Regions from separate parts of the Homo sapiens genome. Here region 1 is linked to region 2. Evidence: fine-mapped expression QTL. Tissue or cell type: whole blood. Region 2 holds a variant in brackets; the other region holds the start of a gene. All regions are shown on one strand. Distances are from middle to middle.

What was found. PIP is the estimated chance that this variant, and not a neighbour inherited with it, causes the effect.
Region 1: POLR2C starts here. The variant in region 2 is fine-mapped to the expression of POLR2C in whole blood (TOPMed, PIP 0.99).

Annotation. Positions count from the first base shown.
Region 1 is chr16:57,461,443-57,463,942 of GRCh38, reverse strand. POLR2C (RNA polymerase II subunit C) reads right to left here and starts at 1,264. Exons shown (of 9, transcript NM_032940.3): 1 at 1,133-1,264; 2 at 865-914. The coding sequence starts at 1,218. RefSeq lists an enhancer at 1,112-1,406.
Region 2 is chr16:57,411,677-57,414,176 of GRCh38, reverse strand. It overlaps CCL17 (C-C motif chemokine ligand 17), which reads right to left. Exons shown (of 4, transcript NM_002987.3): 2 at 175-303. The coding sequence starts at 244. Among named protein-coding and RNA genes, the nearest start is that of CCL17, 8.2 kb to the right of the region's middle. RefSeq lists an enhancer at 270-319. The variant G/A (reference allele first, on the strand shown) is at 1,450.

The DNA of each region.
Region 1 (2,500 bases), 50 kb before region 2:
TTTGAGAAGGAGTCTCACTCTATTGCCCAGGCCAGAGTGCAGTGGCATGATCTCGGCTCACTGCAACCTCCACCTTCTGGGTTCAATCAATTCTGCCTCAGCCTCCCCAGTAGCTGGGATTACAGGTGGGAGCCACCACACCTGGCTAATTTTTGCATTTTTAGTAGAGGCGGGCTTTCCCCATGTTGGCCAGGCTGGTCTCAAACTCCTGGCCTCAGGTGTTCCTCAGTCTTGGCCTCCCAAAGTGCTGGAATTACAGGCGCGAGCGCGGCCTGGAAGCCATTATCCTAAGAGAATTAACACAGGAACAGAAAACCAAACACCGCATGGGAGCTAAAACTGGGTACGCACGGACATAAAGATGACAATAAACACACTGGTGACTACTAGAGCTGGAAGGGAGGCAGTGGGGCTAGGGGTGAAAAACTACCTATTGCGTACTATGCTCACTACCTGGGTGAAAGGATCATTTATACCCCAAATCTCAGCATCACGCACTATACCCAGGCAACAAACCTGCACCAATGTACCCCTTGACTCCAAAATAAAAGTTGAAAACATTTTAAAAACTTTTGTAACAATAGTAGTGAAAACAGTATTTGAACCCAAGTCTGCACACTGCTAAACCCATGCTTCTCAGCAATGCATACCCAGGACAAGGGTGGACCTAAGTGGCCCGTGGGCGCCAGGGAGGCGGCCACTGAGCCAAGGGCACAGGGTATGGTCAAGTCTCCAGCAATGCACTTTTCTCAGCACTACCACCCTCAGCCCGAACCAAGGACTGGAAGGAGCCCCAAAGAGTGTGTGGGTGGAGAGCGGGGCAGGAACCCGTGGGCGCGGGAACGAGGAAGGGGAGTCGCTTACCTATTATGGGAACCTCAGCGATGAAGACCCTCCGAATCGAATTGGCCACCCTGAAAGATCAAAAGCCAAGGGGCGTGAAGGCGCTGCAGCCTCGACAGGCTGGGCCCGCGCCGCAGGCTCCCAAAGCTAAAGCCCTGGTGCAGGGGGGCAGCTCTGGAAGGACATCGCCCCCACCCCACCCCACTACACCCCCGCCCCCTGCCCCGGGGCCCCGGCTTGGGCCTCCCGGCGCCCCAGAGCCGCCAGCCTCTTCCCTCGGTAGCCTTACGCCAGGTCGGTGTTCTCGATGATGAACTTGACATTCTCGTCAGTGAGCTCCGTGATCCGCACGGTAGGCTGGTTGGCGTACGGCATCTCGCCCAGGGGCCACCAGCCTCCGCGTCTGCTCCGCGGTGACTGCGCGGCGCCACCGCCAACACCGGAAGTCAGTCAGCGAGGCCTCCGCGGCTTCCGCAAAGACGACTCACAGCGCCGCCTGCTGCTCGGAGGCCAGAACTGCCGAGCGTCTTCTGCGGCCTCCTGCTTTAAAATGTACCAGATTCAGCTATCTCGGAGGGTAGTTTGGCAAAACACGCATACGTCCTTCACTTAACAGTAACACTTCTAAGAATTCATACTGCAGAAACACTTGCAGTTGTAAACAAAGATACGAGTGCAGGGACGTTCGTGGTAGTACTGTTTGTACTGTCCATTGATAAGAGACCTGGTGGAGTATACACACATGGAATACTATGAAGCACTTAAAAAGAACTTGTACATCTATAGAAAAACAAAAGTATATTTTAATATGAATGTATATTTTAGCAAAGTATACCTGAATTATAAGTAAATACCCTTTCCCTTGCAGTCTCAAGTATGGACCATGCACTTCTGAAAACTTCAGGAAAAGATACAATGTTCTTTAACCTAATGCTTCCTCTACAGTCTGTGTAGCTGTGGTGGGTGAGTGGGAACTCTTTGTCTCTGCATCCCCAGTGCCTGGCAGTGGGCACCATGTGGGGTGCATGCTCAACAAAGAACTACTGAAGTCCCCTAAACAGACTGGAGAGAGGTTTAAATGGGCCTCAAAAAAAGTGGCTGCTGCTCCAACAGAGAAAAGCTCTAAAATAGAACGTGGCAGGAAATACATTTAAGAGTTGGGAGAAGAGTAACCAGATAAAGAGGAGTTTGCCTTTGCAAAGAGTGACACCTCTTCCTGAAACAGAGGGTGGGCACTGATGGAACCCTGCTCCATAACCTGTGTCATCTTGGTAAATTAAGAATTATGGTTGTCTGCTGAGTGTAAGATGGATGCTATGAAGGAAAAAGGAGAATGCAATGAAAACTGGAACAGCTACTGCGAAAACTTCACAGGATGTCAAGAGATACAAGGAATTGAGAGGTGCAAAAAAGATCCAGTGGAAGACCCACAAGAGATCTGAAATTCAATTAGTTGCTGACTTTCCCCCATTAATATTCAGCTGACAGGCAGAAGAGAGCAAAGCAGAAAACAGAGCTAACCAGACGTGCAAAGGGAACCCAGCCAGTGTAGAGGCTGAGAAAATTACTGGGGCTAAAGAATGTACCACTAAAATCGTCAGACAAGAGCAGCCAAGGGAGCTGATGGTCTGTGGGAAGGCTTCTGTTACCCGTATTT
Region 2 (2,500 bases):
ATTTTTCTCTGCTTGTTTCCCTCAAAATCCTAGTGCTGTGGGCTTCTCACGTCTTTTGTGGGAGTAGGTGGGGTGTAAATAATACACAAACGTGTGTATTGCTGTGGTGGTCTTCATGCCCCCAACCCCTGTCCTCCCGGTGCCTGCCCCTGGCCACCTGTCCCCTGCTCTCACCTGCGTGGATGTGCTGCAGAGAAGCCCCCAGGAGGAGGGTGACCAGGGCCAGCATCTTCAGTGGGGCCATGGTGCCAGGAGCCCAGGAGGGAGTCTCTGTGTGCAGGTCCCTCTGCTCAGGGAGACACCCTGCTGAGAGTCGAGGGTGGCAGTGACCTATTTAACCTCTTTGGGGGTCTTGCCCCGCCCCTCTGTCACCTCCTCACATCCTTCCCTAGACCAGTGAAGTTCGAAGAATTTGAGATGATTCAGGAGAAGTCTAGCTCTTGGAATGTTTGTGGATTTCCAGAGAATGGGCACTCAACTGGAGACAGAGGTGGGGTACATGTGTCTAGAGCCCATGGCAGTGACACACTTCTCCTTTCAAAGGGGACATTTCTTGGTTCCTCTATTAGAATTGAAAAGCCTCCACGCACAGCTGGGTTCATCTCTCTGTAGCTGGAGAGCATCCTTCATGCATGGTGGCTTGAGCAGGGGGCAGACGGAAGTGTCGGGGAGTCAACCAGGCAGAAACCAAGCAGAGCTCTTCTCCTGGACCATGAGTGAGCTTCAGGGTGCTGCCAGGGCCACCCTGGCTGCCGGGCATGGGCCCATGGGCTCCTGGACCATGAGTGAGCTTCAGGGTGCTGCCAGGGCCACCCTGGCTGCCGGGCATGGGCACATGGGCATCACTCTGCAGGGAGATCCATGCTTTATCTGCCTCCGAGAGGCTGAGGCCCAGCCAGGGCACAGAGCAGCTTTGGTTGGTGTCCCATCCCAGGTGAGGCCCTGACCACAGGAGGCAAGAGCCCAACGGTGCTTCGATTCAGTCCAAATAGCTCAGGAAACCACGTTCCCCTAAATGGGATGCCTTACACTAAGATACAGAACAAAACGAAGGGGTCAGTGGGAGATGCTGCTTCTCACTTCTAGCAGAGCTGTGTCCCGGAGTCAGTACTGGACGCCTGGTCAGGGTCCAGCCTGAGCCAGGCCCTGAGCTGACTTTCCAGGCACCCCAGCTCATGGCATGGCAGATGACAGAACGTAAGTCCACTTTCCAGTGGGGGCAGGAATAAAACAAGAATTGCAATAATGAGGTTGATAAAGTTGGTGAACTGGCTTCTCTGTGACTCTAGCGTCTCAGCCCCAGGCCACAGCATCACTGCATGCGGGTCAGTCCCCTGGCCACCCGAGGAAATTGCCGGTCGCCCTGTTGGGGCTCCCGGGAGCCACAGCATGGGCGTCCCTACAGTAGGATGAGAGTCCCATGGCCTTCAGGTGGGCAGCACCAGGGAA[G/A]GGCAGCTCCAGGCAGGGCAGCACCTGGACTCTGATTGTGACATGGGGGACCTTGGCCTGGCTTCATCCTGTCCTTGCATGACCAGGGCCAACTCAAAATGACAGCACTGCCCCTCCAAAACATGGCGCAGGTGGCTTCCACCCTCTCACAGTCCACCCTGTGTTAATCACTAAATCATTACTAAGTTTTTCACTAACTGTCATGATAACTGCAACAGCCGCTATTTGTCATGAGATTTTTGTTTCTTGTTTTTAGATTCTGGGGATACCTGTGGAAACCCCACACTACTGGAGCATCGCTCAGAGCTAACCTCATCAGTCCTTAGGTAGAAGGGCAGGGATCCTATGAGAGGAAACCAGACAAAGACCCTCGACTTCGGAGGAGCCTCAGGCGCTCCTCTCCCCACCCCTCAGCAAGGGCTGCCTGGGAGCCTGTGGCTGCTTCCGCACCTGGGAGTGGGGCTTCCCTGCCCATGGCAGAATCTTTCTGTGGGCAGCATCCTCTATATGACCTCCGGCGGCTCACAGACCCTCTCTGGACCTCAATCTCATCACCTGTAGAGGGAAGTTTGGTCTGTCCCACAGAGCTCTGCCAAAACGGTAGATCTCAGGAAGATGGGGTCCCCCTTGGTGGGCCTCGCACCAACATTCCTCTGCTTCTCTGGGGGTCCCATCAGCTGCCAGAGACCCTGACCCTGCCCCCTCCTCAAGCCACAGTCCAGATGGGTTCTTTGCCCCCAGCCACCCCTCCTGTGCCCAGGGCTGTCTTCCATTTGCACGTGCAGAGGAGGGGGAGGGGAGGCTGCTCTTCCTGCCTGGGCACCTCTTTGGTGCCAACATCCCAGAGAAAGGGAGGGGCAGCCTCAGAGTAGCTCCCCGCAGAGTCCCCCTGCAAAGGAGGCCGCGCTGGGCAGGGGAAGGTGTGCAGGCACAGGGCAGCCCTGACCTGGAGACAGAGCCTGAGCCCAGAGGTGCAGGACCAGGCCTGGGTCCTCGGAAGAGGCAGGAAGGGGCGCCTCCGCCGACCACCCCTCCCTCCCTAGCTGCCCTC